Homo sapiens: one gene and its partners. The protein of the gene in region 1 purifies or fractionates together with the protein of each later gene. This does not show direct contact. Each region holds a gene or a part of one and is shown in the gene's direction. Other genes may lie near its edges. The genes, in order: CDA, MTMR6, RNF181, PPIL2, WARS1, PYM1 and FBLN1.

What was found.
Region 2: the proteins of CDA (region 1) and MTMR6 purify together in Homo sapiens (co-immunoprecipitation; 3 studies listed by BioGRID and IntAct, with this or other methods). This does not show direct contact.
Region 3: the proteins of CDA (region 1) and RNF181 purify together in Homo sapiens (affinity purification with mass spectrometry; 2 studies listed by BioGRID and IntAct, with this or other methods). This does not show direct contact.
Region 4: the proteins of CDA (region 1) and PPIL2 purify together in Homo sapiens (co-immunoprecipitation; one large-scale study listed by IntAct). This does not show direct contact.
Region 5: the proteins of CDA (region 1) and WARS1 fractionate together in Homo sapiens (co-fractionation; one large-scale study listed by BioGRID). This does not show direct contact.
Region 6: the proteins of CDA (region 1) and PYM1 purify together in Homo sapiens (affinity purification with mass spectrometry; 2 studies listed by BioGRID and IntAct, with this or other methods). This does not show direct contact.
Region 7: the proteins of CDA (region 1) and FBLN1 purify together in Homo sapiens (co-immunoprecipitation; one large-scale study listed by IntAct). This does not show direct contact.

Annotation. Positions count from the first base shown.
Region 1 is NC_000001.11:20,602,597-20,606,096, forward strand, and holds part of CDA (cytidine deaminase), read left to right. Parts: intron 1-2,331; coding exon 2,332-2,443; intron 2,444-3,500. UniProt on the Homo sapiens protein: This enzyme scavenges exogenous and endogenous cytidine and 2'-deoxycytidine for UMP synthesis.
Region 2 is NC_000013.11:25,245,722-25,249,488, reverse strand, and holds the end of MTMR6 (phosphatidylinositol-3,5-bisphosphate 3-phosphatase MTMR6), read left to right. Parts: coding exon 1-257; 3' UTR 258-3,267; downstream 3,268-3,767. UniProt on the Homo sapiens protein: Lipid phosphatase that specifically dephosphorylates the D-3 position of phosphatidylinositol 3-phosphate and phosphatidylinositol 3,5-bisphosphate, generating phosphatidylinositol and phosphatidylinositol 5-phosphate.
Region 3 is NC_000002.12:85,594,553-85,598,208, forward strand, and holds RNF181 (E3 ubiquitin-protein ligase RNF181), read left to right. Parts: upstream 1-1,192; 5' UTR 1,193-1,211; coding exon 1,212-1,297; intron 1,298-1,966; coding exon 1,967-2,097; intron 2,098-2,269; coding exon 2,270-2,379; intron 2,380-2,400; coding exon of another isoform or gene 2,401-2,551; coding exon 2,552-2,626; intron 2,627-2,892; coding exon 2,893-2,952; coding exon of another isoform or gene 2,953-3,013; 3' UTR 3,014-3,156; downstream 3,157-3,656.
Region 4 is NC_000022.11:21,669,012-21,672,511, forward strand, and holds part of PPIL2 (RING-type E3 ubiquitin-protein ligase PPIL2), read left to right. Parts: intron 1-901; coding exon 902-951; intron 952-1,287; exon of another isoform or gene 1,288-1,365; intron 1,366-1,554; coding exon 1,555-1,600; intron 1,601-1,985; coding exon 1,986-2,048; intron 2,049-3,318; coding exon 3,319-3,370; intron 3,371-3,500. UniProt on the Homo sapiens protein: Has a ubiquitin-protein ligase activity acting as an E3 ubiquitin protein ligase or as an ubiquitin-ubiquitin ligase promoting elongation of ubiquitin chains on substrates.
Region 5 is NC_000014.9:100,351,348-100,354,847, reverse strand, and holds part of WARS1 (tryptophan--tRNA ligase, cytoplasmic), read left to right. Parts: intron 1-281; coding exon 282-401; intron 402-978; coding exon 979-1,161; intron 1,162-3,500. UniProt on the Homo sapiens protein: Catalyzes the attachment of tryptophan to tRNA(Trp) in a two-step reaction: tryptophan is first activated by ATP to form Trp-AMP and then transferred to the acceptor end of the tRNA(Trp).
Region 6 is NC_000012.12:55,900,913-55,903,894, reverse strand, and holds the end of PYM1 (partner of Y14 and mago), read left to right. Parts: intron 1-414; coding exon 415-508; intron 509-1,539; coding exon 1,540-2,023; 3' UTR 2,024-2,482; downstream 2,483-2,982. UniProt on the Homo sapiens protein: Key regulator of the exon junction complex (EJC), a multiprotein complex that associates immediately upstream of the exon-exon junction on mRNAs and serves as a positional landmark for the intron exon structure of genes and directs post-transcriptional processes in the cytoplasm such as mRNA export, nonsense-mediated mRNA decay (NMD) or translation.
Region 7 is NC_000022.11:45,544,383-45,547,882, forward strand, and holds part of FBLN1 (fibulin-1 isoform D precursor), read left to right. Parts: intron 1-2,702; coding exon 2,703-2,822; intron 2,823-3,500. UniProt on the Homo sapiens protein: Incorporated into fibronectin-containing matrix fibers. May play a role in cell adhesion and migration along protein fibers within the extracellular matrix (ECM).

The DNA of each region.
Region 1 (3,500 bases):
TATTTTTAGTAGACAGGGTTTCACCATATTGGCCAGGCTGATCTCAAACTCCTGACCTTGTGATCCGCCCGCTTTGGCCTCCCAAAGTGCTGGGATTATAGGCTTGAGCCACCATGCCCAGCCTCATCATGTGTTTTTATAGGCCAGGCTTGTGGCTTCTTTGGCGATCCAATTCTATCAAAAGTTGGAAACATCCTGATCTATTTGCTTCCAATTATTTCCATACAGAAATGCCACACCCAGAGATCCCTTCTGGACATGGTTCTGAAGCCTGCCAACTCTGGCATTTTCCTAACTGGCTCCCATGCCTGGCCCATTCCTGCTGCCCCATCTTAATGCTGGCTATTGTGGTGCCTGAAACAACAGGCTGTGTGGGCAGATGACACATCACATCTTTGCCACAGGGCTGATTCCCATTGCCAGGGAGAGAAATTTCAGTGGTGGGTACCACGGCCTGCCTTCCTGGTTATTGCAGGTGGAGCTTTACCAAATAACAGACTAGGAGGAGTCACCATCTGGCCATCTTGCCTCATCTGTGTTTTCTCCTTTGCGTTGCTCAACCACTAAGCCAATGTCACATACTTTAGATTTTTTTTGTTCAAGTTGCATCTCACCTTCAGCACAAATGTCTGTATTAGACATAGGTTATGCTACTATAACAAACAGATTCCAAGATGCAGTGATATAAACATGGTGGAATTCTCTTTTTCTCTCACACAACAATTCAGAGTAGGCCCCAGGCAAACGGGCAACTCTGCCCCATGAGTTGACCAGGTTTCCAAATTCCTTCTCTCTCCTTGCTGCTCCTCCATTCCCTTGGCCACGCAGTCAAAAGTGTCCCACCCCATCACCTCCACCTTCCAGTCTGTGGAAGGAGAAAAGAATGGAAGTAACAGGCAAGCAACCTCCTTACCAAAAGTATGATCCAGAAATTTCCCACATCACCTTGGGCCACATCCCATTGGCCAGAACTGCATCATGTGGCCACACTGTGCTGCAAGGGAGTCTGGGAATTACAGTCCCTAGCTGAGCGGCCATGCTGGAATGGGAGGCACTTGTATTACTTAAAGGAAGAAATAGGAAATGAATACTGGGGAACAACTCCTATCTCCGCCTCAGGGAAAAAGGCAATTTACAAACAGTGATACAGATGGAATACCACATCTTGCTGGTCAGGGGAAAACCCAGCTCCCATAGTGATTTGTTCGTAGACTCACTTCCCTGAATATGGGGACTTTCTTAGCCAATCTGGTTATGCCAACATCTTGCCTCCTAGGAGCAGCCTTGGCTTATTGTCCCCCAGCAACAACCCTGAGAGAGCCAACAGGAAGGACTCCCTTACTGAGAGCTGGGCCATCTTAGGAGCCCACATCCCACTGGAGGCCCGAGGATTGTTTTAAGTCTTGTGAAATCACAGGCAACTCGCACAAAGCTCGAGGTGTTTTTTTTGTTTGTTTGTTAATTGATTTCGTTGTTAGTTGGTTTTGACAGTGTGTTTGTTTTGCAACACAACTGACACAGAACCCTGGCTGAACTCTGACAGCCAGTACCTAACCCCCAAAATTTTGTCCAGGCTCAAACTTGGAATCAGGATCTGTCTTAGTCCATTCAGGCTGCTATAACAGAATACCATAGACTGGGTAGCTTGTAAATAACAGAAATGTATTGCTCACAGTTCTGGAGACTGGAAAGTCCAGGGTTCAAGGCACTGGCAGATTCAGTGAGGGCCTGCTTAGTCATAGACGGTGACTCCTTGCTATGTCCTCATGCGGCAGATGGGGCAAGGCAGTTCTCTGGTTTTATAAGTGCATGACTCCCATTCCTAGGCTTGGTCCCCTTCATTCCATTCTCATTATCTAATCATTCCTCCAAAGGCCCCACTTCCTAATACCATCACTTTGGGGGCTAGGATTTCAACATATGAATTTGATGGGACACATTCAGACCATGGGGCTCTTAGATCTCTTAGATGCAGGTGTGGGGGCTCTACTTATTTTTGTAAGCCTCGGGATCTACCCTGGCCTTGACCTCTGCAGGGGTGATGGAGCTGCCTAATCTGCCTGTTGTGCTGCCCTGCTCCCAGGCTGTGCTTCATCATGGAGGCATTGGGTAAATTAAGACAGTGCCAGGTTCTTGGGAAGGGCCACTACCATGGGCCAAAGAATCTACCAGTGCCCCAGGTCGAATTGCCCTAATTGCCCTGTCCTTCTCCCCACCTTGTTTGGAGTAACCAGTTCCTTCCTGCTTTGGAATGGGGCAAACTTCTTACTCAACACACGCAACAGGAAGTGTCTCTGCCAGACATACCACTGGACTCTGCTCTCTTCTCAGGGTGCAACATAGAAAATGCCTGCTACCCGCTGGGCATCTGTGCTGAACGGACCGCTATCCAGAAGGCCGTCTCAGAAGGGTACAAGGATTTCAGGGCAATTGCTATCGCCAGGTGAGTGGGAAAGCCAGGTTGCAACAATATTCATTCATCTCTTTAGCCAACATCTTCCTTACACATATTATTCATTCATTCATTCATCTGACATATGTTTATTGTGGACTTCCTATGTGCCAGGCACTGTACAGGGCCCTGGGATGAGTGCTGAGGATAAGGAGATAAATAAGAAATGGAGTTTGCCCTCAGTGAGCCTGCAAAGCAGGTAAATAAGCAAGGCAACTCTCATACAAGGGCCAGTATGCCCCTGTTCCAGCAACACAACGTGATACAGACTCCTGTCCTACAAGATATAACAGAAAGGCAGCATTGAAACATAAAGCGGGGGGAACCTGAGCCAGGCGCGGTGGCTCACGCCTGTAATCCCAGCACTTTGGGAGGCCAAGATGGGCAGATCACGAGGTCAGGAGATCGAAACCATCCTGGCTAACACAGTGAAACCCCGTCTCTACTAAAAATACAAAAAAATTAGCTGAGCGTGGTGGCGGATGCTTGTAGTCCCAGCTACTTGGGAGGCTGAGGCAGGAGAATGGTGTGAACCTGGGAGGCAGAGCTTGCAGTGAGCCGAGATGGCGCCACTGCACTCCAGCCTGGGCGACAGAGCAAGACTCCGTCTCAAAAAAAAAAAAAATTTTTTTTTGCTGATGGTGGCATGCCCATAGTCCCAGCTATTTGGGAGGCTGAGGCAGGAGGATCACTTGAGCCTGGGAGTTCGAGGCTGGAATGAGCCATGATTATGCCATTGCACTCCAGCCTGGGGGACAGAGTGAGACCCTGTCTCAAAAACAACACAAAACAAAAAAGCATTGAGAACAGTTTGGAAAGGTCTTCACCGGCAAGTAATTATCACAGTGTTGTACCATTGGATTCTCTTGGCTTACTTATAGGTTCTGTATTGTTTGAATAACAAAAAAGGAATACTGAAAGCTGGGTTTAGTGCAAGGCCAGTGGGGACTGCACAGAAGCAAGCCCACGTGCCTTTTATAAGATCCTACACTTTGCCTCAGTCTGGCCCCAAGGAGACCCAGCTTAATTTGTTTCTGAGTAAGTAAAG
Region 2 (3,767 bases), on another chromosome or scaffold:
TTAAACAACGCAAAAATAAGCAAACAGATGGCATCCTCACCAAGGAATTGTTACATTCAGTTCATCCTGAATCACCTAACCTCAAAACTTCCCTGTGTTTTAAAGAGCAGACTCTGCTACCCGTAAATGATGCTCTTCGAACTATAGAGGGCAGCAGCCCGGCAGATAATCGTTATAGTGAATATGCAGAAGAGTTTTCTAAATCAGAACCTGCTGTGGTCAGCTTAGAGTATGGTGTGGCAAGAATGACTTGTTAGACTCATAGAGTTTTTTCTGCAATGATTGCAGTACAAGAAAAGGATTATTGTGAGGATGGTCTGTAAGCATAACCAAAAGGAATTTGTCTAATAACAATTTTAGGGTTTAACAGTAGGCTAATAGTTGAAGGAAGGATAATAACTACCCTTGTGAGAGAAATAAGTCATTTTAATTGCATTTCCAGCAAGGAATGACATTCAGTTCTGTAAGAAATGAGTGGTATTTGATGTATTTACTCAAAACACAATTTGCACTGTACACTAGTGAATTGACGTTTATGATTTATGTTAATTCAGCCAAACATAAATAACCTTCCTTAAGTACAATTTAACTTCAAGAAAACAAAATTTGACAACATAGTTTCTTAATAAATGATATGGCATGTACTTTCAATTATGTAGCTTTGTAACTATGAATATTTACATATTTTGCCTTTTAGTGATATTTAATGTTAAAGTGCCATGAAAAATATTTCTAAGAAAGCCTTAAATTCCCAGTGGATTCTTTACCCTTAAGTTTTACAGCCTACAACAAGATTTTTTGTTTTGTTTTTCTTCTGGTCAGCCTTGTTTTGTTTGTAAAGAATTGTGCTCTCATTACTGCTGGGGGTGCATGCTACAATACTTCTATATAAACACTTGTAGAAGTACACTGTTCACGTTTAGCCTGCCCCACTTTTGTATTCAAAATTAATGAAACTGAAGGTTTATTCTGATCATAATTTGTTTAGTGCTACATTTGATAATTTATTATTTACAGCTTAGAATATTGATTTCTTGAATACGTATAAGCACATTTGACTGTCTTTTATATATGGATTACTGCATTCCATTGATTCTTATTTTGTGGTTGGCTTTATTTCTTTCACAACTGTGTAAGTTTAAAGAGCTAAAGCTCTAAAACTGTTCTGAGAAACAATGAATAGTACATGTATATGTATATTTTTAAACTGCCTTATTGCTCAATGAGTTGCTGTTCCTGGAGTATCTAACTTTCAGTTTACTCAAAAACTTTTGGGTAAATAAAAAAGGGAAGTACAGATAGTTTAGGTTGTGCATGGTTGCATGAATTTTGAAGTCATTTCTATGTGGAGCATTATTTTTCTTCTTGTTAAATATAGAAAAAAAAAGAGATTCTAGTACAAAGTTACTGTTTAACAAAAGCAACATAAACTCTGGGAAAGATTTCATTTTGCCATGTTATATTTACTGTTTATTCTGTGTACTAGTACATATCTTTAAATTACCAAAAAACAAGAAACAAAACATAAAAACCCCAAAACTATCACTTGGAATTAGCAATATCACCCAACTGGCTTTAAAATTGAAAATTTAAATAACATGGTGGCATGAAGTACAATTCGAGTATTAGGCAATTTGCATAGTGTTCCTCATGCTACTTTCTGTTACACCTCTATTATATTAGTTTTGAATATAAACATCTTTTTCAGACCAAAAAAAACTTTATTGTATGAGAGCTTATCTTATCCTGTTTATTTTTCCAATGCTTTTCTGTAATACATTATGTAATTTAAAAAATATTCCTTTTTAAACAGCAACAGAAATGCACTATAAAATATAGTATGTGATTAACCAATCCTGCTTCCATATTTAAGCACTGGGAATGGAAACTTAATCTCTGTGACTACAAAGGGAAGTTTTTGTGCCTTGGTGTTCCAGTCACTGATTGTGGTTTTAGAATCTTCTGTGGCTGACTTCTTGTATTCAACTCTGGTTTATTATCTTAATCTTCAACTTCAGACATATATTTGTGTGTTTATATGCTCACAGGTGGACTGAGAAATCAGTTACATCTTAAGTGACCTACAGGGTATATGTTGGCAAAAGCAGACTGTGTATATGTCTTATAAAGTTGAATTTATGTTCAGTGTGTTTGGAAGTGTATAGCATGTAAATTACTTCATATATGATTTAAAGGTAATTAAATGTTCACATTTTACTTTGAATGTTTTTCTTCTGGATAAAACAAATGGAATCAAGTTGTAGTTGTTTTTTTTTTCTTCTCACCTAGGCAAGTAGACTTGCCCATTACATTAACATAACAGCATAAGGTTTGAGGAGTTTATTTTCCAAAAGTTTGTTGATAAATAATACCTGTTTCATACAAAAATAATTTCCAGAATATTTAAAATAGGTATAGTGGGCTAAAAGGCCCATCAGATGTAGGTAATAATGTCATTAAGTTTTCATTTTGTTCCTGTCACTTGCTTATATTACAATCACTATTTTTTTGTGCCCTTGCCAACTTGATGGAAGGCAGGGTCCATTGAGTACAAACATTCGAGGTGAAATGTCTCTCCAAAGGCAGATCTGGATGTAAATATGAGGAAGAAAATAACTGGCTGACAAGAGGATAATTTTATTGAGGGTGTTTTGAAAAGGTCAGCTAGGCTAGAAGTAGCTCAGGGAATCTTGAGTAAAGATGAAGGGAACTCTTTTAAAACAAATTCAATTTATTTGGTCGGGTAGCAGAGCAGGGAGGTGGTGTCAGTCAAGCCTGTTTTGAAACATTTTTTGCAGAAGGTCAGCTTTAAAATATTGAAAAATTTCCAGTTGACATGCTAAGTTGGATTAAATGCTGATCATTTATAAAACTATATAGTTGCTGCAAAAGTAATTGGGGCTTTTGCCATTGAAAGTGATGACAAAAACCGCAATTACTTTTGCACCAACCTAATACTACAGTTGCAGACTTTTATTAGTGACGCTGATCTTCATTAGTCAAGTTTTAGTTATTTTGTTGGCTTTTCCATGTAGAATTCCAAGTGACATTAACATACTTTGATTAATTAAAGAAAATTTGGAGACTGTTTAAGATATATGTCTAGATATCAATGTAAACTATAAGCTTTAGGAACTTACATCTAGAAGAAAGCCTGGAATCTAGAATAATTATCTCAAAAAAAAGTATATATACCATTGTACTTGATATAAGAAAATGTAAACATGAAACCTTGACATTTTAATAAACAGTATTTGTGCTACTCTAGTTATTTCTAGGAAAGTAAAATATCCATTTAAATGGCAACTTTTATAAAATAGTGGCCTGCATAACTGAAAGGAACTTTCAGAAGCTAGTAGTAGACTCTATAGCCCTGGTGTTCAGTTTCTGATTCAGTAGTTAGGGGTTGGGACTCTGGAGTTAAAATCATTTGCATACCAATAAATTGTTTGCACTTAGCAATATTTTGGATATTGTGATGCAAATGGTTGGGGAATCATACTTTGAGAAACACTGCTGTAAACCACCCATCATGGTCAGTAAACATCTTGTTTGTTCTTAAAGGGATGCCGAATTATTCTTTTTTTTTTTTTTTTTTTTTTTTTTTTGAGACGGAGTTTCACTCTTGTTTCCCAGGACAGAGTTAAAGTGGCACAATCTTGTCTCACCACAACCTCCGCCTCTGGGTTCAAGTGATTCTCCTGCCTCAGCCTCCGGAGTAGCTGGGATAACAGGCATGCACCACCACACCGGGCTAATTTTGTTGT
Region 3 (3,656 bases), on another chromosome or scaffold:
CAGGGTCAAGTGTGTAAAATAAGCAGTTCCTTGCTGGGTAAAGTGAGCGCTACTGACAGAAACCAGAATAAGCCTGAGTTGTGTGGAGCTTCACCCCTTACAGAGCGTGTTAGTTTTACTGAGCGCATTAGCGTCTTCCTCTCTTGGGAAAGATGGAGGAAAGCACTTGGCCCTGCAGCTGGTCTGCAACACCACTTACAGACTGCAAATTTGGGCAAGCCACTTCTGAGGTAAAAAGGGCATAATGACGCTTAGCTCCTGGGTCTATTGAGGGGATGATCGAGCGTGTAAAACATACATCAGACTAACAGTTCTAGATGCTAAATAGTACCTATCATCCAAATCATTGAGTGCAGTGGTTCTTAAACCTGCTTCACCTGCATAATTTATACAAGTGCCATTGCCCAGGCCCCACCACAGATCAGTTAAATCAGAATCTTCGAAGGTATCAGACACGGGTGTTTCTAAAGCTCCTCCGCGCCCATTCTCTCCTCTGGGAATTCATGTGTAGCCAGGAATGAAAAGGTCTTAGTACAAGCCAGCAGTTTTACAGAAGCTAGGGATAGCAACGGGCTGAAGGTAACAGTCCCATGAGCTGGTTGAGGCCCCAGGTTCTCCGGCAAAGAGATCTCTCTCAGTTGGGGAGGCTTGCCCCACCCTTTATTATTATGCCTAACACATAAGAAATGCGCAGGAATCAAACGCAAACTGGTGAACCAACTAGAGGGCCGCGGGGGCAGAAGTGTCCGGCGGGGATCCGGACAGCGCATCCGGAAGCGCCATGGGCCAACGCTCGCAGGAACCTGAACCCCTGGGCCAGCGCCGCCTTTGCTCGCAGAGGCCTCTAGCATCTGTACTGTCGAAGCCCTCTGAGCTTCAGGGCAGACTGAAGAGCCTTACACACCAGACACTTGGACGCGATCGCGCCAGAAATCCCCGGGAATTCAGTCTTGGCTCCGACTCCAAAACAAATGATTCCTCACCAGCCAGATCTCCATCATTGGCGTTAGTCTCTGGTCACCTGACTTGTTCAAGCCAATGAGAGGGGGCCGAATTAGTACTTCCGCTTTCCGTGCTGTTTAACGAGCCACTATGCCCGTCCCTCGGATACTCTGATTGGCCAGCCTCTCTCAGCTCGTCAGTTTATTGGCCAGCGCCGCTAGGCCGCTATCGAGCAGGGTCCGAGGGCTGTGTCAGAAGGCTGGGCAGCCATGGCGTCCTATTTCGATGAACACGACTGCGAGCCGTCGGACCCTGAGCAGGAGACGCGAACCAACATGCTGCTGGAGCTCGCAAGGTGGGTGCGCGGGGCTTGGGGATAGGGTCCAACCAGCAGGTTTCTGGGCTGGGGCTGGCTGGAGAAGGCGGATTACCAGGGGCAGCGGATTCTGGGGAGGACAGATGAGTAATCTGGAGTGTTAGTACGGGCGGCGAGACTGAGGGGTGTGGGGATGAGCATCTCGATAATTTGGGCCGTCCGTTGGGCCGGCCTGGGGCAAGGGGATTGCGGGAAAGATTGGAGCTGGAGAGTGGTGGGCGTGGGGGCGGAAGGACAGCAGGCTCTGGGAGGTCTCAGAGAAGGTGAGGCATGGGGGCGGGGTTGGGGCCGTGTGCTGTGAGTGGGTATATTCATCAGTAACAGCAGGCACTGCTGTTACTGGACCTGGAATCTGGCTTGGTCTTGGAATCTGGGCTCTACCAGGTTATTCAGCGTAGCCTGAGTAACTTCTCTGAATCTGTTGCCTCATGTGTAAAATGGGAATAAACACTTTACGTGCTGGGGCGGTCTGATAGCAGTTGTAAACTATTTCCCATCGTGCTTTTTATCTAGTGAGCATCTACTAACTACTAAGGGTAGCTATTATTCCTACTAGCTGGGCAGCGTGTTTATTAATGTCCAGTGGATTATGGGGACAAAGAAAAAGCATAGTTTTCCTTTGTTCTGACTTTACATCCCCTTCCCCAGGTCACTTTTCAATAGGATGGACTTTGAAGACTTGGGGTTGGTAGTAGATTGGGACCACCACCTGCCTCCACCAGCTGCCAAGACTGTGGTTGAGAACCTCCCCAGGACAGTCATCAGAGGCTCTCAGGCTGGTGAGGACACTGATTCTTTCTGCTATTTGGGCCAGACCCACCCCTTCCCCAAGCCAGACTGTGGTCTGGTCCTTCAGTTTTCCAGGTCAGGTGGGGGCAAGTGTCCTTCAGGAGTGGGAGCTTGGGAGGCAGAGCCTGTAGCAGCTCTCCTGATCAGCACTCCTTCCTAAAGAGCTCAAGTGCCCCGTGTGTCTTTTGGAATTTGAGGAGGAGGAGACTGCCATTGAGATGCCTTGCCATCACCTTTTCCATTCCAGCTGCATTCTGCCCTGGCTAAGCAAGGTACTGCTTCTCTTCTTCTAGCTCTCACCGTGCCCTGGGCCCAGTACTCAAGCTTCTTTCTGTTCATGGACTGCTGGGGGATGGAAGAAGAGTGGCAGTTGGGAGCAGGGGAGGGTGGTTATCAGCTTATGAAGATCAGACCAAGGCTAGAACACTACTCTACTTTTCTCAGACAAATTCCTGTCCCTTGTGCCGCTATGAGCTGCCCACTGATGACGACACTTATGAGGAGCACAGACGAGATAAGGTAGGGGCTGATGCTTAAGTGGAGGGGTCGTAATGGGCTCCCTGAGTCCTGTCCCCGCTGCCATCACTTCCCACCTCAGCAGGACTGGGTAGGCCTCAGAATCCCTGGCTCTGGCTGTCTTCTTAGTGACTTTGATTTGTGGTGAGAGCCTCAGCAATGCAGACGCCAGAGGCCTGAAAACAGAGCCAGCCCCATAATAGCTGCCCATCCCCTCACCCATAGGCCTTCAGTTTTGGCCCCTGCCCAGCATGCCTTCTTTCCTTCAGGCTCGAAAACAGCAGCAGCAACACCGACTGGAGAACCTCCATGGAGCCATGTACACGTGAGGAGGTTGGGGCTGAGTGCTGGCCCTCTGCGTCTTCCTTATTAACCTTGAATCCTCATTAAAGGTTTCTTTACCCACCCTGAGGCTGTATTGATCACAGACCTGGCCAGGGGCTCTGCATCCTCCATCAGGTCTCTACTTCTGTTGGGGAAGGTGATCCTAAATCGCAGAAGGCACCAGGCTGCGGTTTTCCTCCCTGCTGGCCCATCTGGACTCATGGCAGTGGTAAAGAACTGGATTACTGCAATAGCCAGGGCTTGGGCCTATGTGTTCATGGTTGGAAGGCAAAATGTGTCAGGGTCTGGTACCCAGTTAATTACTTAAAGCTGATAAACTAGGCTGGGTGCAGTGGCTCATGTCTGTAATGCCAGCAGTTTGGGAGGCCAAGACAGGTGGATCACGAGGTCAGGAGTTCGAGACCTTCCTGACCAACATGGTGAAACCCCGTTTCTACTAAAAATACAAACATTAGCTGGGCATGGTGGCACGCACCTGTAATCCCAGCTACTTGGGAGGCTGAGGCAGGAGAATTGCTTGAACCTGGGAGGCAGAAGTTGCAGTGAGCTGAGATCATGCCATTGCACTCTAGCCTGGGCAACAAGAGCAAAACTCCGTCTCAAAAAAAAAAAAAAAAAAAGCTGATAAACTAGCCTGCACCCTCCTCCCACTGCAATGTCTAGTTAACTTTGTAATCCCACAGGTTTT
Region 4 (3,500 bases), on another chromosome or scaffold:
TCTATTTTTTTTTTTTTTTTAGTAGAGACTGGTTTCACCGTGTTAGCCAGAATGGTCTCCATCTCCTGACCTCGTGATCTGCCCGCCTTGGCCTCCCAAAGTGCTGGGATTATAGGCGTGAGCCACCTTGCCCGGCCGGTTTTTTTTGTTTTTTGTTTTGTTTGTTTTTGAGACAGAGTCTCCCCCGTCCCCCAGGCTGGAGTGTAGTGGTGCTGTCACAGCTCACTGCAGCCTCAACCTGCCTTCCTGCCTTAGTCTTTGGAGTAGCTGGGACCACAGGTGTGAGCTGTCACACCTGGCTAAGTTTTAAATTTTCTTGTAGAGACAGATTCTCGCTTTGTTGCCCCAGCTGTTCTCCAACGCCTGGACTCAAGCAATCTTCCTGCCTTGGCCTCCCAAACTGTTGGGATTATAGGTGTGAGCCACTGTGCCTGGTCTCCATGTCTGTTGTGTTTATCACTGTGTGGCTGACATATAGTAGGTGTTTTTTTGTTTGTTTGTTTTTTTGAGACAGAGTCTCACTCTGTCACCCAGGCTGGAGTACAGTGGTGTGATCTTGGCTGACTGCAACCTCCGCCTCCCGGGATCAAGCAATTCTCTGCTTCAGCCTCCCGAGTAGCTGGGATTACAGGCACCCACCACCATGCCCAGCTAATTTTTGTATTTTTAGTAGAGACGTGGTTTCACCATGTTGGCCAGGCTTGTCTTAAACTTCTGACCTCTAGTGATTCGCCTGCCTCGGGCTCCCAAAGTGTTGGGATTACAGGCGTTAGCCACCGTGCCCGCCCCATAGTAGGTATTTAGTAAGCATTTGCTGAGTAAGCAAAGATTACTCACTTCCAAAGACTTCGTCCTCTTTATAAAGGTGGTGGTGGTAGCATTATCTTCCTCTCTTCTTCAGGTACATTACCTGTGCTGAATACACTCACTTTTATGGTGGCAAGAAGCCAGGTAAGGCATGCAGTCTTTCTGTTCCCCGTTGGGGGAGTGGTATTAAGGAACTGTGTCTTCAGGATACAGTGAGCTGTAAAAATAGACAACAAGAACACGGAAACTATGGTAGACGAATGGGCTGAGGACACAGTTCATGAAAGAGAAATATACTCAAGATAGAAGAACCTGCTTCATCTTAGTGGTGATTTTTGTAAAATGTAATTTAAAATATTCCCCGATGCTGGGAGCTAAGTAAAAAATAAATAAGTAAATGAAATACAAAATTACATGTACATTTAAATGTTTTTTCTCTATCAAGTTTATAAGGAATAAAAAGAATGATAATATTTTCAGCTGTCAAAACTATCAAGACTACAATAACAAGAGCACTGTCATAATTTTAATGGAAGTAAAAAGTATGCACTTTTCCCAGTAAGTTCTTTTTTGATGTACCCCAAGTGTTTTGGTTTATCTGTTAAAAGGTTTTTAATCCACAGCAATTGCTGTACTTAAAAATTTGCATGAACTTTTTCATAAGCTGTAACTGAATTGCTAGCAGGTGCACATAGATGAAATACTTTACAGAGTAAGATTTCTGTTTTTTATTTCATTTTTAAACAGATCTCCCACAAACAAATTTTCGTCGTTTACCTTTTGACCACTGCAGGTAAGAGTTTTGCGAGTTTACCTTTCCCTTGTAATTGTTCTCTGATCCTGTCTGATAGTGAATCTGCCCCTTGTGGATGTGGGGTTATGCGTAAAAGTGTGCCTTGAAGATGTGGCCCTTCAGTTCATGTTGGGAGAAGATGCAGAGTCCTCGTCATGATGTTAGGAGCTTGCCTTGGTGTTGGATCCTGCTCTAGACCTTCACCAGGGGTGGCACAAACACTATTGTAGTTGGAGGAGAAGGTTGGTGAGAGAGGGAGGTGGCCAGGCTGCCCAGAGAGGGCTCCCTGGGACAGCATTTCAGGAGGTCACCATGCCAGTCTCAGCCAGCCCACATCCTGACCAGGGTGCGTGGCAACTCACCAGGAATGACTGTCCTTTTTCAGTCTCTCTCTGCAGCCCTTTGTCTACCCAGTCTGCACTCCCGATGGCATCGTCTTTGACTTACTGTGAGTTTTTCCTTGAATTTTGATCTAACAAATGTGAGATTCTCAACACCCATTAAGGAAGGGGACCCTTGGTACCCTTGGGTAGGGCTCTTGGGCACACAGAAGTAACAGCTAGGGCCTTGGGGACATGGCAGCAATGCTGCTGTGACCCTTGGGCAGGCAGCTCTAGTTGTCAGGTACTGCTGTCACTGCCTGGAATGGGGTAGACCACCCCCTACCCCTCCAAGTGCAGGCATGAGCCACTGCACCTGGCCTGAAAATGAATTTTTAGGAAATTTCAGCCTTATTTTAGAAAAAGAAAATTTTACCACAGTCCCACTATCCAAGATAACCACTGTAAATATGCTAATTTTTTGTGAACTTATTTGTAGTAACATGATTGAGATAACACTGTGAACACTGTGAAGTGTTGACAGGTAACACTCTGTGGATCTATTTATTCACTTGGTTGTGATGAGAGCTTTTTTCCCCGTGTGATTCAGAATTCTCTGAAAGTATAGTTTTTCTTTGTTCTTTTCTTTTTTTTTTATTTGAGACAGGGTCTCACTATGTTGCCCAGGCTGGTCTTGAACTCCTGCGCTGAAGCAGTCCTTCCACCTCAGCCTCCTGAGTAGCTGAGATTTCAGGCACACACCATCACCATGCCTGGCTTGAAAGTATAGTTTTTGATGCTAGCTTAGTATTTAATTATACAGATGTATCAACATTTATGACGGAGTGGTGGCTTATGTCTGTAGTCCCAGCACTTTGGGAGGCTGAGGCAGGAGGATCTCTTGAACCCAGGAGTTTGAGACCAGCCTGGGCAACATGGTGAGAACCTGTGTCTACAAAAAAGTGCAAAAATTAGCCAGCCATGGTGGTGTGCACCTGTAGTCCCAGCTACTTGGAAGCTGAGGTGGGAGGATCGCTTGAGCCCAGGGGTTGGAGGCTGCAGTGAGCCATGACTGAAACACTGCACTCCAGCCTGAGTGACAAGGCGAAACCTTGTCTCAAAGAAAAAAAACCCAAACCATTTACTTACTCATTTTCACCTGTAGTTTTTGTTGTTTATACATAACTACAGTAATAACTCTGAACATATTTTGAAACCTATGTATCCACAAATATCCCCCAACTTCCTGAGACAAGATGAGGAGCTCTTCCTCTCCTAAAGTGAAGCAAGACCCCTTCACAGGCCTCTAACCTGGAAGCAGCCCTGCAAGACCACAGTGTTGTTACCAGGTGGCGCCTAAGCACCCTGGTGATGCTTTCTGTTCTGTCTTCCCTTCAGGAACATTGTTCCATGGCTTAAGAAGTACGGGACCAACCCCAGCAATGGAGAGGTAGGTGGCTGTGCAGGAGTTTCAGTGATGCTAGTGAATGCTATCCTCTCACTTCTCCTTTTGTTCTGGTGGTTTTCATGAACACAGGAACATGGGAGAGAACCGTTCATGGGGCCCAGTGAGGAGGGAC
Region 5 (3,500 bases), on another chromosome or scaffold:
TTGGAGGGATTCCAGGAGTCCCAGTAACTGCATAGCTGGATCCATCTTTTAAACACATTATTCCAAACCTACACATCTTGTCTTTTAAAACACTCACAGGAGAAACCATTTCAGTAGAAGTTTCCTGTCTATATTTATATCATAAGCACCAAAGGTAACAAATTCTAGTTATTATCCATGTTGTTTCGTCTCTGTCTATATTTTCCATTTCCAAAAGTGCATTAGTGCCTTGATATTTTTCTCAGAAAATCACACTCTTCCTCTTCTCCTTTTTCCTTTAGAGATATGAATCAGGTTCTTGATGCCTATGAAAATAAGAAGCCATTTTATCTGTACACGGGCCGGGGCCCCTCTTCTGAAGCAATGCATGTAGGTCACCTCATTCCATTTATTTTCACAAAGTAAGTATTGGATCTTATGGCTTTTCTTACTCTCTTAGTGAATTGAGAATGTTGCTTATAAACCATGTTTAGAACTGACAAGATCATGCTAGTTCATTTGCTGAGCAACCAAGATGTCAAGAGTTGGCACTTTTTTGGCTTCCATTCACTTTGTTCCTGGGCTCACTTTAGAGGACCATGGAGTGATGGGGAGAGCGCAGCTTTGGAGTCAGCCAGGCCTGCTCCTCTTCTCATCCTGCTCCCTGTCTGCATGGCCATGGGCCTGCTACTTCTCTGAGCCTAAGTTTCCACATCTGCAAGATGAGAATGAAGATACCTACCTCATAGAACTACTGTAAAGCTTCAAAACAAAGTGTGTAGAGCAGCTAACACAGAGCACACAGGGCCACCTGGTCGATAAATGGTAGTAGACCTTATCATTATCCATAGTCAAATTCATATCACAATTCAAATTGTGATTTTGTAGGCAAGGAAGTTTTAACATACGTTGTAAGTAGGAGCTGTGTTTTCAGATGCACGATGGCGTTCCTCCACAGGGGAGATGAGACGTCAGCTTTCTCCCCCTGTGTTTCTTTAGGTGGCTCCAGGATGTATTTAACGTGCCCTTGGTCATCCAGATGACGGATGACGAGAAGTATCTGTGGAAGGACCTGACCCTGGACCAGGCCTATAGCTATGCTGTGGAGAATGCCAAGGACATCATCGCCTGTGGCTTTGACATCAACAAGACTTTCATATTCTCTGACCTGGACTACATGGGGTAAGGAGAAAACGTCTGGCTGCCTTTTCAATAGGTAGAGGAGGATGTCAAGTTGTCATGACCACAGCTAAATTCGAAACAACTGAAATGGTCTTAAGGCCTAGTAAATGTTCTTCTTCCTTTATTAAATGCTATGAGTGGCCAGCCATGGTGGCTCACACCTGTAATCCCAGCACTTTGGGAGGCCGAGGTGGGCGGGTCACGAGGTCAGGAGTTCAAGACCAGCCTGACCAACATGGTGAAACCCATCTCTATTGAAAATACAAAAATTAGTTGGGTGTGGTGGCACGCACCTATAAGCCCAGCTACTCAGGTGGCTGAAGCAGGAGAATCGCTTGAACCCGGGAGGTGGAGGTTACAGTGAGTTGAGATCACGCCATTGCACTCCAGCCTGGGCAACAGAGCGAGACTCCATCTCAAAAAGGAAAAAAAAATGCTATGAGCTGGTTTATTGGTTTTATTTACCAATAATTTTGAAAGTGAAAAGCTGTGTATGTACATAGAAAGGATTAAGTGATATCAGTATCTTAAAGACTCGATTATTGTCTCCATAATTACATTTACAGAAATTTAAAATATGGGCTCAGCCACAGCATGATGGCATCTCAGATCTTCATCCTCAGCTGTGCCAGGAAGTCCTGCCTTGCAGTTTCTTGCCAAGGATAGTCAGTCTTCCAGAGTTATGTCTTCCTCCTTTTCAACGCACCTTTTCCTCACAGAGAAAAGACTCAGTGGTTACACAGTTTCCTCAGTCTAGTTCTTTTAATCAGCCATTTAATAAACCAAAATATTTCATTCTGAAAATCCTTCAAGTTTCATCCCAAATGATTACCAAGAAATGTGTTAGAAAAATAAGACTTTGGTCAACCATCACAAGAAGGATACTATCTAGCTCAACAAATATTTCTTGAGCACCTGAGTTGTGGTACTCCCCTAAGGTGAGATACTCTTCTAAGTCATAGTACTCCCCTAAGGCGTGGTCTCTCCTAAGGCATGGTACTCCCCTAAGGCATGTTACTCCACTCCCCAAAGACGTGTTACTCCTCCCCTAAAGTGATTCCCCAGGAGGAGTGGGTTCATTGCTATGCTCCTGCAGCCCAGGCTGGGCTCTGAGCAGGCCCTCCCATGTTAGCTCACCATCAGGGACCATGCCGAGGCAGGATAAGAGGGACACTAAAGGGGCAGGTGAGCAGTGAGCACAGGAGGACTTGCTTAGAGCCGCATCCCCAGAACGTTCCCTCTTATAAGACCTTAAAACTGAGTAGTGGCAGCCAGGCGCGGTGGCTCATGCCTGTAATCCCAGCACTTTGGGAGGCTGAGGTGGGTGGATCACAAGGTCAGGAGGTCAGGAGTTCGAGACCAGCCTGGCCAATATGGTGAAACCCCATCTCTACTAAAAACACAAAAATTAGCCGGGTGTGGTGGCGTGCTCCTGTAGTTGCAGCTACTTGGGAGGCTGAGGCAGAAGAATCGCTTGAACCTGGGAGGCGGAGGTTGCAGTGAGCCGAGATCATGCCACTGCATTCCAGCCTGGGCAACAGAGTGAGACTCTGTCTCAAAAAAAAAAAAAAAAAAAAAGAAAGAAACTGAGTAGTGGTTTTATATCCATTGAGAGCAATGTATACCCTGATAGGAAATCTCGCCCTTCTATCAGCCAGTAAAACTGTTAGCTTTTTCTTTTTCTTTTTTTTTTTGAGACGGAGTCTCGCTCTGTCACCCAGGCTGGAGTGCAGTGGCACAATCTCGGCTCACTGCAAGCTCCGCCTCTCAGGTTCACACCATTCTCTTGCCTCAGCCTCCCAAGTAGCTGGGACTACAGGTGCCCGCCACCATGTCCGGCTAATTTTTTGTATTTTTAGTAGAGACGGGGTTTCACTGTGTTAGCCAGGATGGTCTCGATCTTCTGACCTCATGATCTGCCTGCCTCGGCCTCCCAAAGCACTGGGATTACAGGCATGAGCCACCACGCCCAGCACCTATTAGATCTTTTAAAATTACTTCTCTTGGTTCAGCCATGTGAGCATGGAGGCCCTGTGGCATCCTTGAAGGAAGGAAAATAGACAGGGATCCAGATCCTGGCACCTGGGTTTAGTGGCTGTGTGTCATAGCAGCCGTGTCCATGAAATGGGATCAAACAAGAACATAGATGTCATCATTAGCATAATTTTCTTTTTTTTTTTTTTTTTTGAGACAGAGTCTCACTCATGGGTTTTGCCATGTTGGCCAGGCTGGTCTTGAACTCCTGACCTCAAGTGATCCTCCCCGCCTCAGCCTCCCAAAGTGCTGCGATTACAGGTGTGAGCCACCATGCCCAGCCGTGTTAGTATAATTTTCATGGC
Region 6 (2,982 bases), on another chromosome or scaffold:
TTGACCTATTTTTTTAAGTTCCATCTAAATAAAATTTCTCCTTTACAACATCCGCTATTGTCATTTCTCCTCCCCGTGGTTTTTGTGTCTTTTTAGCCTCTTGTTCATTTACTGCCTTTCATGTTCCCATGCTATTGCCTTGGTTTTTTAACAAAATTCTTCCTCTGTGCCTATCCTGTCTTACCTACAAATAGAATCTTCTTGAGGGCAAGGATGGTTTCTTGTACGGTGTATTGGCACTCGGTAAATAAATAATGAGAGAGGGATTGAGTGTTGGTATGAGAAAAGGAGCCTAATGGTTGCATTTGGATGAATGGGTGCTGAGAGATGGTATGTACATTTATACATTCTTGTCTCATCTTGTAAAATGTTTGAAAATAAGAGTAATTTTCAACTTGATTTTTCTTATTTTAGGCAAGTATATCGCGTCAACACAGCGACCTGACGGGACCTGGCGCAAGCAGCGGAGGGTGAAAGAAGGATATGTGCCCCAGGAGGAGGTCCCAGTGTACGTGGTTAGGCTTTGCGTAGGGGTTTTCTGATGGGGTCCCTACAGAAGGATAGAATATCCTTATGCCTACAAGTTCAGGGAGGACTCTCCTAAGCCCCAAGGAAATGGAAGGAGGGGCAACTATCTGAGAAAGGAGAGAAAGAGTCTGGGATTCAGGGATGAGTGAGGGTTACAGATCACTAGTCCTATACTTTTGACCTCTGTTCATTAGAACCTCCAGAGCTTTAGGTTCTAGGGACTTCGCTGCATCTTTCCTGCAGAGCAGAGGAAAGTTGGGGAGGGACCATAAAGAGAGAAAGGTGGTCAGGCCCAGTGGCCTACATCTGTAATCTGAGCACTTTGGGAGGCCTAGGCAGGTGGATTACTTGAGGTCAGGAGTTCAAGAACAGCCTCCCCAAAGTGGTGAAACCCCGTCTGTACTAAAAATACAAAATTACAAAATACAAACATCAGCCAGGCGTGGTGGCACGAGCCTGTAATCCCAGCTACTCAGGAGGCTGAGGCAGGAGAATCTCTTGAACCCGGGAAGTGGGAGGTTGCAGTGAGCTGAGATTGCGCCAGTGCACTTCAGCCCTGGCGACAGAGCGAGACTCTGTCTCAAAAACAAACAGGCAGGCGCAGTGGCTCTCTGTAATCCCAAGCACTTTGGGAGGCCAAGATCGGTGGATCACCTGAGGTCAGGAGTTGAAGACCAGCCTGACCAACATGGTGAAACCCCATCTCTACTAAAAATACACAGTTAGCCAGGCGTGGTGGCAGGCGCCTGTAATCCCAGCTACCCGGGAGGCTGAGGCAGGAGAATTGCTTGAACCCTGGAGGTGGAGGTTGCAGTGAGCTGAGATTGCGCCATTACACTCCAGCCTGGGCAACTGAGCGAGACTCTATCTCAAAAAACAAACAACCCCACAAAAACAACAACAAAAAAAGGAAGCAAGAATGTAATGAGGATGAAGTGTTTGGAAGTTTAAGAAAAGGGATCAAAAAGTCAGTAATTCTCTGAAACTCTTGACATCCTTTGTTTCCTGCAGATATGAAAACAAGTATGTGAAGTTTTTCAAGAGTAAACCAGAGTTGCCCCCAGGGCTAAGCCCTGAGGCCACTGCTCCTGTCACCCCATCCAGGCCTGAAGGTGGTGAACCAGGCCTCTCCAAGACAGCCAAACGTAACCTGAAGCGAAAGGAGAAGAGGCGGCAGCAGCAAGAGAAAGGAGAGGCAGAGGCCTTGAGCAGGACTCTTGATAAGGTGTCCCTGGAAGAGACAGCCCAACTCCCCAGTGCTCCACAGGGCTCTCGGGCAGCCCCCACAGCTGCATCTGACCAGCCTGACTCAGCTGCCACCACTGAGAAAGCCAAGAAGATAAAGAACCTAAAGAAGAAACTCCGGCAGGTGGAAGAGCTGCAGCAGCGGATCCAGGCTGGGGAAGTCAGCCAGCCTAGCAAAGAGCAGCTAGAAAAGCTAGCAAGGAGGAGGGCGCTAGAAGAGGAGTTAGAGGACTTGGAGTTAGGCCTCTGAGGCCTTTGGGGAATAGGGAATGGACTGCAGAACAAACCGTGGGGCTCTCTGGGGTCTGGGGGAATACGGGCAACAGCAGTCAGGAGGGGTACCCCCCATACTGGCTTACTTCCACCTCCTGCGGCCCAGCTCTGTCCTCCAGAGCCTAGCGTCTCCCTCAATCCTTCCCTTTTCTTCCCAACTTCTACTTTTTGGACTTTCCCCCTCCCATTCCCAGTGTTCAAAATCTCAGTGACTACCCCAGGTACCTTTGCTGCTGATTTGGGTGTCTTGTTTAAAAGAAAATCAGGTGGGTGGGAATCTCTTGGAGAACTGAGGCTGAGGGTAGAGGGAGTATGCCCAAGTCTTGGAGTCTTGGTTCCTGTTCGCGGTGTTTATGGGTTATTTCCCTCTCCATCCCTCATTTTTTTTTTTTTTTTAAAAAAAGCAAAAATGAGAATAAACACAAGTAGACATGTCTGGCTTTGCCTCCTTATTTTCAGCTCCTAGTAGATATTGTATCTCCTGAGTTTGGCACAGGAAGACAAGTATTGGGAGTGATTTCTTTTCTTTTCGAGACAGAGTTTTGTGCTGTTGCCCAGGTTGGAGTGCAGTGACGTAATCTGGGCTCACTGCAAACTCTGTCTCCTGAGTTCACGCAGTTCTCCTGCCTCAGCCTCCCTCCCGAGTAGCTGTGATTACAGGTGCCCACCACCACACCTGGCTAATTTTTTAGTAGAGATGGGGTTTCACCATGTTGGCCAGGCTGGTCTTGAACTCCTAATTTCAGGTGATCAACCCACCTTGGCCTCCTAAAGTGCTGGGATTTTAGGCATGAGTTACTGTGCCCAGCCGATATATATTTTTTTCTTTTTCTTTTTTTGTGAGATGGAGTCTCGCTCTGTCTGCCAGGCTGGAGTGTAGTGGCGCGGTTTCAGCTCACTGCAACCTCTGCCTCCCGGGTTCAAGCAATTCTCCTG
Region 7 (3,500 bases), on another chromosome or scaffold:
GGCCTGCCTCTAACTTCGTGTTGGAGTTAGGCTTTCCCCACCCGCAGAGACAGGGAGAAGCACCCTGGCCTTCCGGATGACGACATTCCCCAGGCATGTCCCCAGCCCTTGAGAAAGACACTCCTTGGTTGCACATCTCAAAGGGACAGAGAAACCGTTTACATTTGCAAGTTTTTCTAAAGTAGATGCTTCTAAGGAACATGGAGGTCAGCGCCTGTAGTCAGGTTTGGGCTGGAACCAAGAGAAAATTCTTTTGGCAGCATTGATCTTTCTCAGACAGGCATGTCAAGGGGGCTGGGTCTACATCCTGGATACCTGGTCTTGGGCCAATGGCAGCCACGCTGAAGTTGGGTCAGGTCTCTTGGTATGTGGGGGTTGGACAGAGTTGTTCCTGCCAACAGTCTTGTGGTTCTCAGATAACACCAACCTCCTGGGCTGATGGGAAGGTCACATGAACTGCATGTCAGCCCAGGGCCTGGCACATACTAGGTGCTTGGCAGATGTCGTGTCTTGTATACGGATTAGGTTCTGAGCTGAGCAGACACTGAGAGCTTTGGATGGCCCTCCACAATCGTCCACATTGCCGATGACACCCTGTTTGGTGCCGTGCACTGGCTCACAGGACGGCTTCTGCAGCCTGACTCAAACATGGCAGGTCCTAACATTTTGCCATGAGAATTTTCCTTCCTGATGAGATGGTCGCAGGGGTTGGATATGCCACAGTGAGCTGTGGTGTGCATGATTCTCAAATCGGAGGACGGACGGTGTGAGGGGTCCTGGGCTTAGTTCACAAGAACGTGTATGGACAAGGAACAAGATTCACGAGTTGAGTCTCTCAGGCTTGTGTTCAAACCTGACTTCTGCCATTTCCATGGCCTTGAAGAAGTAACTCAGTCTTTCCTGGGCCATGGTGTCCTCATCTGTAAAACGGGCATAGTAGGACCAACCCCATAGGGGGTTGTGAGGATGAAACGAGATTAAGCATGTGAAGAGCTTATCACAGGGCCAAGCACAGGATGAAGAGCTGGCGGTGTGGAGGCTGCTGGCTTTATTATTATTTAGTAGAAGTAGTGGGATTCCTGGCTTGTGCTTCCTCTAGTCATTCATAAATTGCTGAAAAGTCGGCATTCATATCCACATTAGTGGACAATATTGTGGATATAGAACCAGAGCCTGGCCAACCTTGCTATGTGACCTTACTAACCATTTGTTAGGGTCCTGCCCCGGGTGTGTAGCAAGAACTCGGTCCTGCACTGGGGAGTGTCTCTAGCGGGGGATGAGAGACCACACTGGACAGGTGGAGGCCAGGCCTGGTGTGTGGGGGCCACAGAGATGAAACACGGGGTGGAAGGCTATTGGACGTTCTGTGACAGCCACATAGTATAGATTTAAGGCTTTTCCAGCCACAATCTCTGTTGCAACCGCTGAACTCTGCTGTGGTAGCAGAGAAGTGGCCAGAGGACCATGGTAAAAGAATGAGTGTGGCAGGGCACAGTGGCTCACACCTGTAATCCCAGCACTTTGGGAGGCTGAGGCAGGTGGATTACTTGAGGTCAGGAGTTCGAGACCAGTATGGCCAACATCGTGAAACCCTGTGTCTACTAAAAATACAAAAATTAGCCGGGCATGGTGGTGCACACCTGTAATCCCCCAGCTACTCAGGAGGCTGAGGCAGGAGAACTGCTTGAATTCATGTCCACATTTAGTGGACAATAGCCTCCCGGAGGTGGAGATTGCAGTGAGCTGAGATTGAGCTACTTGTACTCCAGCCTGGGCGACAGACAAAGACTTTGTCTCAAAAAAAAAAAGAGTGAATGTGGCTGTATTCTTTATTTTATTGTTATTATTATTTTGAGACGGAGTCTCGCTCTGTCGCCCAGGCTGGAGTGCAGTGGTGTGATCTTGGCTCACTGCAACCTCTGCCTCCTTGTTCAAGCAATTCTCCTGCTTCAGCCTCCCGAGAAGTTGTGACTACAGGTGCGTGCCACCATGCCTGGCTAATTCTTGTATTTTTAGTAGAGATGGGTTTCATCATGCTGGCCAGGCTGGTCTCGAACCCCTGACCTCGTGATCCGCCCACCTCGGCCTCCCGAAGTGCTGGAATTACAGGCATGAGCCACCATGCCTTGCCGGGCTGTGTTCTAATAAAACTTTATTTATAAAAACAAGTGTTGGGACAAATTTGGCCCATAGACTATGATTTGCTGACCTCTGCTTTAGGTAAAGGGGACAGTTGAGCAGTAGTTCAGAGTTGCTGAGTGGCCCAGTGAGTTCTGTGCATTGGAGTATGAGGAGTACTGGCGTATGGGCTGGGTGGCCGAGGACTTCCTTGTGTGCCGTCATCTGTTTAGGATGCCATCTTGGAGGTGAAGTGGAGAGCACAGGATCAGATTTCCATTTGAGAACTAGAATGGACTCTGGCAGCCAGGTCGGGGCAGACTTCCAGGGGCCAAGGCTGGAGGCGATCGCTGCCATCCTGGCAGGAGAAGTTGTGGTCGAAGCAGGCAGGAGCAGGGATGGAGGGTCCGGAGCCACCAGCGATGACGCCTCTCCCTCGGCCACACCCCCCGGGACCTCTGTCTCTCCGAGTGTGTTAACCTGAGGGAGGTGGAGAGGAGATTTTCTGTTCACTGACCCTGAGGGCTACTGTGGAGGCAGGGACGTATGATGCTCTGAGCGGTGACCCTCGTTTTGTATTTCAGACATCAATGAGTGCAGCAGCAGCCCCTGTAGCCAGGAGTGTGCCAACGTCTACGGCTCCTACCAGTGTTACTGCCGGCGAGGCTACCAGCTCAGCGATGTGGATGGAGTCACCTGTGAAGGTGCGGACGCCCCTGCCTGCTGAGGGGGAAAGCACCCCCTGGTCTTGCCATGACACAGCAGCACGGCCTCTGACTTTCAAAATCCACAGGGAAGAGCCTGCTGGGATTTCTTCACCTGACAAACCTTCCATGTCCACCCTTGGAGGCAAGCGGGTGGTTTGCTGTTTTCCCTCCAACTGAGGTTTTTTTTTTTTTTTTTTTTTTTTTTTGAGACACGGTCTTGCTCTGTTGCCCAGGCTGGAGTGATATGGTGCAATCACTGCTCACTGCAGCCTCAGCTTCCCAGGCTCAAGTGATCCTCCCACCTCAGCCTCCCAAGTAGTTGGGACCATAGGTGTATACCACCATGCCTGGCTAATTTTTTATTTTTAAAAAATTAGAGACGGGGCCTTGCTGTGTTGCCCAGGCTGGTCTCGAACTCCGTGGCTCAAGTGATCCTCTTGCTTCAGCCTCCCAAATTGCTGGGATTACAGGCATGAGCCACCGTGCCTGGCCCCCAACTGAAATTCTAATATACTTTTCCCATCCTTAAGCGTGAGGGTGGGAAGGCAGCAAACCACTCCTGACTTGTTCTTTAATAAATGTGCACGGCGGTAATTACAACATGCACTGGGACCTTGGGCCGCATATCTCAGGTCTTGGTGGTGGTGCATGGCTGAGAGGTAAGGAGGGGGCTCA